3 linked regions of the Homo sapiens genome follow. The gene in region 1 interacts genetically with each later gene. Each region holds a gene or a part of one and is shown in the gene's direction. Other genes may lie near its edges.

Region 1 (3,655 bases):
GGCTTTAGGAGTTGCCTATCCGTTGTTGGATGTCAGTTCTTGATTCTCTTATCAGCCAGCCACTACTGTTTATCCGTGTCCACTACATCAAACAGAAGAGAATGAAGTACACAGCCTGGAACAGGGTGAGGGACAGCACAAACCTGTGCTAGGCCCTAGACTGCAGTGTTGAAATCACTTAACTCTAATTTATACATATACTTTCTTTATGTTATATATTCTCAATAGACTGGGAAGTATGTTTCTCAAACTTTAAATCCTCTGACAAACATAAACGAAGATTGTTTTTGATACGTGAAATTTCAAAATAAATACTGCACTGAAACAAAAGACAAAATACTGCTTTGCTTTTCAAAGTATAGTTCACTATTGAGCAACATGGATTTGAACTGCATGGGTTCACTCATACACAGATTTTTTGTTTTGTTTTGTTCAACCAATGCACATTTGAAAATACAATATTTGAGGGATGCAAACCCCTCAAATATATGGAGGGCCAAAACTTCACGTGTGGGTTCCGCAGGGCTAACTGCAGATTTGGGTATACCTGGGGTTCTTGGAACCCATCCCTCGTGTATACTGAAAAAAGACTTCTATTTGTGTAACTGCCAAGATTGATATATCTCCTAGTTACCCTCACCATCATTTCATTCCCATTGAGAAGAATTGATTTGAAGCTTAGCTTCATACTGATGTATAGTGAGAAACTCTATAATGTGCATTCTAAAATGTTGCTAAATTATGATAATCTACCTAATTTTACCTGATTTGCTACTTTTCTACTTATAAACAGTTGGAGTAGTGATTAAAAGTAGTCACATTATAGGCAAATGTATCATATATAGATAAAACTATTTTTATTGAATTTGTACCAGCATCTTGCCAAGTTTTGTGTGATTGAAGGGTATTTTTTTCTTACTGATTTTTTTGTGTTACATGCTCACTTTTGATCCTAACCCCACATGAGTTGCTATTCCTCTGTATTACAGATTTTCACTTAATGTCACAGAGACATGGCCTGAATCATTCCACTATATTTAAAGTTAAAATAGACACTGAAAATAAGTTTAGATTGTTTCATATAGAATAGAGAATTCTAAGCATTTAGAAGGTACCTTCTCATTTCTGTCATTTCTCCTTAAGTAGCTCCTTAAAAAGAGATGGTGAAATATAGACACTTCCTTTTTTCCTTTGAGTTACAACAAATACTTTGGAACTTTTGTTTGTAATTAATATTAATGTTGAAATATGTCATATTTCTCAGACTTTTTAAATATGAGATTTCTAGTTTATCCTTTTTTGACATATTAGTAAATACAGAATTATATAATTCAAAAAACAGGCACAGCTTTGTTAGCTTTTGACATTGTATAATATGATACTATCAAATTTTTAATAATATATGCCCAGAATAACCATATAATTTATCACCAAACCAAGGCATGGTTACGCTATGCATACATGTGCATTTATAATGGAAAATATAGGCTTCAGTTAAATTTATGCCCAGAAAATGGTATTTAAGAAAGAAATAGGCACAGTTTCAGTGTTGTTATCAGTAGTTAATGGACTGAAAGCCAAGAATAGTGATATTCAGATATTGCTATAATGTTCTTTTATTAGTCTCTTAACTGTGCCATTTTCAAGTGTTTTTGGCCTGAATGTTTTATTCAGGCTTATAAAGGCTATGTGTGCCATGCCCAGAATGGAGTTTTCCTTTGTCATACCAGTAGGAAAATGTACCTCCCTGAAGGGCTTGTGTGTTTTGTAAAAGGACAAAATGCCTTTATTGTTACTGAGAAGATTGAGATTAATAGGTTTAAAAGGTGTGTGTATGTGTCTGTATATGCCCTTTTTTTCTTTTTAAAGATATGGACTTGTTAAATCATTTTCCTAATTTCAGTGCAGTATATTTGTATTTTTCCCCCAGGTGCATGAATACCTCAGAAGTAAACTCTGTTCACTGTATGAAAATGACTGCATATTTGACAAATTTGAATGTTGTTGGAATGGATCTGACAGGTAATTAAGTCAAACCTCTCAAATATGAATTTTATTAAAGAAAAGAAACAACTATTTCATTCCAGGTCCTAACTTCGTCTCTAGGGATTCCTTGAAATAAATTTAGTAATTTTAGATATAGCACAGCAGTACTGGTAGATAAAAAATTAAAGCATTGTATTTCACTAGTAAATATAAAAGTACACAAATTCTAGGTAATCTAAATTATTTAAATGTCTAGAATTTTTTTTCTTTTATGAACCAGATCACATTTCTGACATGCTAACCATTAAAACGGTGAAGCTTCAGCTTGGTTGTTATTCTTCCATTAAACTGTTGCAGAAACATTCAGGCGGCAGATAACTCATTTGGATTGTTAGAAACACCAGGTTTTCCAGATGCTACATTAACACCTCATAGAAGTGGTCTTTCATATGTATGTTATGTATGATGTTAACCATAATATATATGGTTAAAATTTTAGTAGTAGTTATCCTTTGCTTTTTATAATTTCCAGTTTTGCCGTAGTGTAATTCCTTTTTCGTATTCATTTTTAGTAAAATGTTACCCATTATTTAAAGATAAAATAAGTCTTACTTTGAGTCTTTTAGTTGTCTATTTGCCACTATGTTCCAGTAGAACAGAAAGTAGTAAAACATAATTTTGGAATTAAACTGACATTTAAAGTAATCAGAGATACTTCAACAACAGTTTTATCACAGAGCTTAATATGATTCCGATTTCATGGTGTTGTGTGTTACAGAGGATAATAGAACTTATAGAATGTTTTCTTTCATCTGGCTTTTAAAATTATCTGATTTTTGACATAAGGACTAGTAAACCTAGAGTTCTGTTAATAGCAAACATTGCCTTTGAGTGCTACTACTAAACCTGAGGCATCAAGAAGAAAGAAGGAAAGGGAAGAAGAAAAAAAAGATTAACAAATTTGAAGAGTAAAGAGATACTGAAATAAGGTGTGGCGCACAGCTACAACCAGTTTTTCATTGTATTTAAGCAGATAATTAGCAGTTTTATGTTCTATTATCAGAAAAAAACGATTTGTTTTCCTTAATATTAAAAATTTTTTTTTAACTATTTCAAACTTAGAGAAAATTTGTTAGAATAACACAAAGAACTCTTGGCTGGCCTTGACCCAGGTTCCCCTGTCGCTGTTTGCTGTATCACGTGTTCTATTCTCTGTTTATTTATAGCTATATTTGTCCACATAGGTACGTGCGCATGTGCTCACATGCAACTTGTGTGCCACATGGGAATTTATTCCATTTACGCCAGATGTGATGCCCATAACCCTAAATTCTTGAATGAGTATTTCCTGACAAAAACACTTTCCAACATAGTGACAGTGCAGCATCCAAAGCAACATTCACAGCGATGCAGTACTGCCATCTAATCCGGAGACCCACTGAAACTGACCAGTTACTGTAACTATGTCCTTTATGGCACAGAACAAAGTCAGTCTGGTTCAGTATCCAGCATTTAGTTGTCATCTCTTGTTAGTCTCCTTTATTCTGAAACAGTTCCTCAGTCTCTCCTTGTCTTTCATGACCTTGGCATTTTGAAGAACACAGGCCAGTTATTTTATAGAATGTTTCCTCATGATTAGATTCAGGCTATACATTTTTGGCAGGAATAC
Region 2 (3,655 bases), on another chromosome or scaffold:
AGCTAGATATATATATTTTATAATTTGGTTATTAGAAACTCTCCATTCTCTCTTTCAGCACAGCATGTTATCCTAGTTTATTGTCAGTTGATATGACTTTCACCCTGGTAGTTTCATTTATTTAAAAATGTGGTTCCAATCTTATAATGCCTCATCCTGGGACTAGGGATTTATACTGTCCTATCCACATCCAGATCCGATTTGCTTCCTTTTGCATGTCAAAAAGATGAGGCTGCTAACAGCCCCACACCCCACCTGGGATCCCAGGATCCAGCTGAGACTCCTGCCTACCTCTTCCATTACCACTATCCCTTGTTGATGTCCTTGTGATTAGAACTTGCTGACAAAACATTCTCAGAATGGATTTGACTATTGCCTATGGTCTTTTGGGTGCACTTCTTCCAGCGGGTTTATGGCTAGTACCAGGTCAGAGATTTATTCTGCAGATCCCCACTCTTACTGGCATATTTTAATGATATTTTAGACCCCATCAACAGATTCCTAAGAAATAATTTGCTAGCTCTGTTTCTTTTGTGGGTGCCCCTGGGTTATTATTGTTGCTAATCGATCTCCTCTCTTTTAAATGTGTTCATAGTGAGAGAAAGAAAAGATATTTGTATTTGGTATCCATAAGTCAAAGTCTCCCTTATAAATTAGTCAGTTAAGCCATTTCTGACTAAATCTTATGGTTTGGTACCTCCCAACTAGCTCTTTGCTTTTTTTTTTCCCCATCTGTGTTTACAATTAATAGAATTTAAAATATTTTGTTTTGTTTTATTACCACTTTTATTTTCTGTACTTCATTTTTTGAGGGAGATAATAATAAAGGAGCAGCCCAGTGGTGGGCAACAGAGATGGGCTTGAATAATGCAGATTCCTGGCCCCTGGAAAACGGGAGTGTTGGTTTTGATAATAATTAGTTTCATAAATTGCCTGCCACTCCAGATGCCAGGGGCAAGACTGGCCAGCATGTTCTCTCCAGTTTTCTGCTGGTCTAATAGGTAAAAGAGTATTTTGATGCACCCTTCTGTTTATCCTTCTACAAGTTTCCCAGAGAATGGAGTGTCCATTTCAAAATTCTAATAAGCCACTGAACTGAGGAACATTTTGTAACTCTCTTCAGGGTGATAAGAATGGTCAGTTGACATTTACAGAGCAACAACTTGGTTCTAAATACCGCCCAGCACCAAGCTCTCCTGTCAAGATTTAGTTGGGAGTGCTCTGCCTCACCCTGCCCTACTAGGAAGTCTGCATTTGCATGTTAAAAGCAGCAGAGAGCAGCTGCATCCTGTGGAGGGGGTCCTATGACACAGGCTTGCTTTGCCGCAGCTTGGCCAGGGAGGCCCTGCTCGTTAGCTTGATGGAGTGTGCTGTCTCCCAAGATGGGCGGCCCTTCTGCCAGTACATGATGTTGGCTGAAATGCAACCACTTGGCCTAGAGAAAAGAGCCTTGGCAGGGGTGGTGGTTGGTGTTTGGAGGGGACTGGTGGGGAAAAGTCACTCAATAATAGCCCCAGGTTATGGCTGAATTAGTTAGGAAGCAGCTCAACTGGCAAAGCCAAGATGGCATCCAGCAAGACTGGCAGCTCCATGGCACCCGACTATGTCACCTGCCAGTGACTCACCACATGCTCCCACCCTTTGGTTTTGTTCTTCTCAGCGCCTGAAGGGAAACGATCCTCAGGCCTGACAGCCGTTTGGGTCGCTCGAAATCGGTTTGCTGTCCTAGATCGGATGCATTCGGTGAGTTAAGACTAAAAGCAGAAACTAATTTGGGGAGTGTGGTGGCAGTGGCCTGTGTATTGCAAAATAAAGACCATTGTTTTTTCTGTTCTCCCCCGGGCAGCCGTGATTCTCATGTATTGGCTGTACCTCTGTCTCTAGCCCTACACTAAGCCCTCTTGGGGGAATGGCATTAAAACTGATTTGATTGGGTTGATGATCGCCGTGGCTCTGGGTTTAAGAACCAAGCTAAAGTCACTCTTGACTACAGGAGCCCAAAACGCATCAAATCTGAAGTGAGTGGGCTGGATGAGGAAATTTCCCTCCTTCTGCTGCCTCCATTGTTACTTGAAATGTAATAGGTCCAGCACAAGATAAAGCACTCTGAAGAAAATATTTAACAAAATTTAAGCCCCAGAAACAGTGTTTTCTCTCTCTCATTCATTGAGAAATTCAGACTTTAGTTGGGACTTCTCAGGATGTTTTAGTTGGAGGAGAAAAAATAATGTATTAAGGCCCTTAGAGAAGATCTTGGTTGGCATGGTCTGTCTGCAGTGGTAATTGACATGGACAGGACAAAAAATACTTAGTTAATTGAAGCTAAGGAACAATTGCTGAGGAACATCATCAGTTGTCATCATCATCTATACACATTTCTTCTCTTAACCCCATCTTTAATACTTATTGCAGCTTCTGATCAAGAATCTGAAGAATGAGATCACCAAAAAGGTACAGGTGCCCAACTGTGATGAGATCTTCTATGCTGGCACAGGCAATCTCCTGCTTCGAGATGCGGACTCTATCACACTCTTTGACGTACAGCAGAAGCGGTAACATATCAGGTGCCCCTAAGCAGACAGCCCTGTAGTTGGGGAGAGTGGACATCTTTAGTGGGAACCTTTTTTCCCCAAGTGAGTTTGTCTTGTGGCTTGGCCACTTCTTGTGCTCCAAGACTCTTTATAGTAACTTTTCCCTTCTGTGATCACTCTCCATTCTTCACGTCCACACTAGCATTACAGTGAGATTCTTGGTTATTTATCTGTTTTTACAGTACTTACCTGAACAAAGCGTGTTCTCCGAGCTTAGAATGAGAGAGAGACAGAGATTAATAACATAGTTCCTACATTTAAGGGAGCTTGCAGTCCAGTGGTGAAAACAGACATACACAGATTCCCTAATAATACAAGGAAATGAGGGAGAGGGGGTTGAGGAAGGGGTAAGTGCACAATGTGAGCCAAAATGTTTAAGTCACTGAGCTACTATGTAGGAATTACATTAAGTATTTTATGTAATTAGAATTACATTAAGAAATTGGGGTTTACATTAATTAGAGGGTGCAATTGATGTAGATCAAAGCCTGAGACAAGGGAAATAGATCCATTCATGTTTGCACATCTCTATCTATCTCAGGACTCTGGCATCTGTGAAGATTTCTAAAGTGAAATACGTTATCTGGTCAGCAGACATGTCACATGTAGCACTACTAGCCAAACACGGTGAGTCTTCATTATATCCACCCTGATTTAGAGACCATTCCCTTCCACCCCGATCCCTGCCAGTCTACGGCACTTACCCTATCCAACAGAACACTCATGCCCTTTGCCTCTTACAGCCATTGTGATCTGTAACCGCAAACTGGATGCTTTATGTAACATTCATGAGAACATTCGTGTCAAGAGTGGGGCCTGGGATGAGAGTGGGGTATTTATCTATACCACAAGCAACCACATCAAATATGCTGTCACCACTGGGTAAGTTAATTATCTGGGATACAGAATGGGAGAAGACAGCTTCCTGAAATCACTGTCTTGTCTTGAGATGTAACTGAAGTCCTCCATGAATTTTCTTCATGGAAAAGCCTTACCTGGCATATATGTGCAAGGGGCATCAGAACATTCTTTTTTCAACTTTTTTAAAATTGAGAAATCTAAAA
Region 3 (3,655 bases), on another chromosome or scaffold:
CTAATAGTAATTGCAAATGTGATGGGTGACTGTCATTAAATAGTATTTTGCATTTTAACTATTTTTGCCCTTCATTTTGTTGCCAGATAGTAACCATAGAGATGACTTTGATCAAAGCGAAAGGTGAGATTTAAACTAGTACAGTAGGGGAAGCGCTGCACTCTAGTGGAGAGAGCTTTGGAGCTTGAGGCAGGAGCCCCGGATCTAGTGCTGCTCATTTCCTTTTGTGGCTAAGCAAGTCATTTTAAGCTGTTTAGTCCTCAGTCTTTTTAATCTCTAAAATGAAATGATTGAATTAAATAATGCCTAGCCGTCTTTCTAGTTCTAAGATTCTTTCATCTTTTAGGATTTATTAGCCTTCAACTTTGGAGAATTTATAGATTTGTTCATTGTTTTTTTCCTCTGATGAACATTTAGCCAGTATTTATTATATATATAAATCTATAGAACTTTCAGAGAAAGGAGAACTAGGGCTCTCCAAACAGGAAACGTTGTTAAAATATGTTAAGAATCACATATTTCAGATTTAATTAAAATAAGTTCAGACGGGCCATGCAGTATATATGCTGTGCCGCATGGAAGATTCATGCATGTTTAAAAGCTATCTTGGAAAAATATGGCAGCAGTATTTTAAAAAGTCAAAACATTATTTATGCCCATAATTCAGAAGCTATTTAATAAGTTTCTTTCATCAGTAGAAAAGGATAGTACTCACGTATCATCCATGAATGTTATTAAGATAAAAAAAATTCATTTTTGGTTAGAAAAACAATTTTTAAACAATACTCTTCTCATTTCAATTTATTGTCAGAGATATTTACATGATAGTTATTAATATTAGCATGTTAAATAAATGCATTTTAAAAATTTTTTATCTAGAGACCAGGTCTCACTCTGTCACCCAGGCTGGAGTGCAGTGGTACATTCCTAGCTCACTGCAGCCTCAAACTCTTGCACTCAAGTGATTCTTCCGCCTCAGCCTCCTGGGTAGCTAGGACCACAGGCACAGGCTACCTTGCCCAGCTAATTTGTAAATTTTTTGTAGAGACAGGATCTGCCCCTATTTTCCATGCTGGTCTCGAATTCCTGGGCTCAAGTGTCCTCCCACCTCAGCCTCCCAAAGTGCTGGGATTACAGTGCGTGAGACACCATGCCTGGCCAATGAGTGCAGTTTTTGTGCTGTATGTTGGTTTTGGTTTTATCAAAATGTGTGGTTCCTAATAGGATAACTTGTTTTACTCCTGGTGTATTATCATTTATGTTTATATTATTTGAGTTTTATTGTTCCAATCTCTAAATATATAGCCTAGGGAGAATGTTTTATTTTTACATCTGAGTTAGAGATGTGGAGAGGTTAGTGTAAGTTGTCAGAAACTGTATTTCAGTTGAATCAGTATCTGCTCAAGAGCATGACTTTAAGGATAGCATGTGTGGGTGTTCTCAGATGCCTTCATTTCCGGTAAGCATGATTACTAATTTATTCTTAAAGTCATTGAAAAATTAAACCATAGTTTCCTGTCTTTTAGCTCCAAGCATTCTTTTTATTTCTCCTTGGAACTCTGTATTTTAAAATATCTGTTAGGGTGACGGTAACTTCATAAAGGAATCATTTATTTTCCTACTTTTTTTTTCTTTTTTTTCTTTTCTTTTTTTTTTTTTTTTTTTGAGACAGGTTCTCACTCTGTCGCCCATGCTAGAGTGCAGTGGTGCGATCTTGGCTTACTGCAGCCTTCACCTCCATGGCTCAAGCCAGCCTCCCACTTCAGCCTCCAGAGTAGCTGGGACTACAGGTATGCACCACAATGCCCAGCTAATTTTTGTATTTTTTTGTAGAGACAGGTTTCGCCATGTAGCCCAGCCTGGTCTCGAACTCCTGAGTTCAAGATATCTGCCCCCTTCGGTCTCCTAAAATGCTGTCATTACAGGCATGAGCCACTGCACCTGGCCTCTGTTTTTATTCTTTAAAGACACATGTGACTACCACTTAGAGTCTCTGATCAGAACAGGATCCACCAGATGCAGTGGCTCAGGCCTGTAATCCCAGCACTTTGGGAGGCCGAGGTGGGATGATCGCTTGAGGTCAGGAGTTCAAGACCAGCCTGGCCAACATGGTGAAAGCCCATCTCTACAAAAAACAACAAAAATTAGCCGGGTGTGGTGGGGCACTCCTGTAGTCCCACCTGCTCCGGAGGCTGAGGCATGAGAATCGCTAGAACCCGGGAGGTGGAGGTTGCAGTGAGCCGAGATGGTGCCACTGCACTTCAGCCTGGGTGAAAGAGTGAGACTCTGTCTCAAAAAAAAAAAGAACAAGATAAACAGGTGTTACCACACTGAGTTGATAAATTAGAATCCAAAACAAAGACTTGATGTTTTCTTAGGTGTTACATGATTGTTATATGTTCAGTTTCTCTTAGGCATTTAAAAATATTAAAAATAGCTTATGGGCTTCAAGTAGGGAACCACTGACTGATGGAACCCACTAGAGAAGGAAGCACTATCATGAAAAGGAGAGAAACAAAACTAGTTATGGGTAGTCCTTTTCCTCTAGAAGAGGCTGTTGATTTTTCCTTTTCTGTGTCAAAACCATTTCATTTTAGACTAGTTATTTGCATTTTGTGTGTTTTTTTATTGTTCATTTTCATCTTTTGTTTTAGGAAGGAAGACTTCAAGAAGTCATTGAAACCCTTCTCTCTCTGGAAAAGCAGACTCGTACTGTGAGTAGTTTACAGGGGAAAGCTCAGTTACCATTAATTTCATTGAACATTCTTCCATTAACTTTCAATATATTTTTACCCTTACAGGCTTCCGATATGGTATCGACATCCCGTATCTTAGTTGCAGTAGTGAAGATGTGCTATGAGGCTAAAGAATGGGATTTACTTAATGAAAATATTATGCTTTTGTCCAAAAGGCGGAGTCAGTTAAAACAAGTGAGTTCATGATCATGTCTGCTCCAAACACAAAAGCATTTGTATTTCAGAACTTTTCACAAGCTCTTCTATAAGTCTGTTTAAAATGTGTTAAGTCAACGTTGTAACATCCTAGAGGGTGTTTTAAAATTCAGTCTACATTCTCACAATGATATGACTGTTTTCTGTTTTTTCTTCTAGTCTTTATATGTTTGCATATTTTTAAAAATTGTGTTGTACTTAGAGTGTTCATACAGCTTTGTTCTATTTTGGTATTGCTACTTTTATTTTTTCCTTATTTATTTACTTATTTTGAGACAGGGTCTCACTCTGTCACCCAGGCTGGAGTGCAGTGGTATGATTACAACTGACTGCAGCCTCAACCTCCTGGGCTCAAGCAGTCTTCCCACCTCAGCCCCCAAGCAGCTGGGACTGTAAGCGCATGCCGCCACACCTGGCCAATTTTTTTATTTTTTGTAGAGATGAGGTCTCACTATATTACCCAGGCTGGTCTCAAACTCCTGGGCTCAAGTGATCCCTCTGCCTTGGCCTCTCAAAATGCTAGAATTACAGGCATGAGTCCCTGTGCCTAGCCCCACTTTTATTATTTTAAATGGTTTTGTTTTAATTTATCAAGCTGATATTCTCATTTTATTTAGTCATATCCCTTTTATTAAGCACATCTTTTTATGCTGTTTCAAAATTTTTTTTTAGTAGTAACTAAATATTTCATTTTCTTTTTTTTT

The links.
Region 2: changes in PPP2R2A (region 1) and COPA together harm fitness less than expected from each alone (positive genetic interaction), as found in Homo sapiens cells (one large-scale study listed by BioGRID).
Region 3: changes in PPP2R2A (region 1) and PSMD12 together harm fitness less than expected from each alone (positive genetic interaction), as found in Homo sapiens cells (one large-scale study listed by BioGRID).

The regions. Positions count from the first base shown.
Region 1 is NC_000008.11:26,364,385-26,368,039, forward strand, and holds part of PPP2R2A (serine/threonine-protein phosphatase 2A 55 kDa regulatory subunit B alpha isoform), read left to right. Parts: intron 1-1,930; coding exon 1,931-2,022; intron 2,023-3,655. UniProt on the Homo sapiens protein: Substrate-recognition subunit of protein phosphatase 2A (PP2A) that plays a key role in cell cycle by controlling mitosis entry and exit. Involved in chromosome clustering during late mitosis by mediating dephosphorylation of MKI67.
Region 2 is NC_000001.11:160,305,251-160,308,905, reverse strand, and holds part of COPA (coatomer subunit alpha), read left to right. Parts: intron 1-1,660; coding exon 1,661-1,743; intron 1,744-2,412; coding exon 2,413-2,552; intron 2,553-3,132; coding exon 3,133-3,218; intron 3,219-3,307; coding exon of another isoform or gene 3,308-3,334; coding exon 3,335-3,473; intron 3,474-3,655. UniProt on the Homo sapiens protein: The coatomer is a cytosolic protein complex that binds to dilysine motifs and reversibly associates with Golgi non-clathrin-coated vesicles, which further mediate biosynthetic protein transport from the ER, via the Golgi up to the trans Golgi network.
Region 3 is NC_000017.11:67,356,578-67,360,232, reverse strand, and holds part of PSMD12 (26S proteasome non-ATPase regulatory subunit 12), read left to right. Parts: intron 1-2,654; coding exon 2,655-2,714; intron 2,715-2,801; coding exon 2,802-2,930; intron 2,931-3,655. UniProt on the Homo sapiens protein: Component of the 26S proteasome, a multiprotein complex involved in the ATP-dependent degradation of ubiquitinated proteins.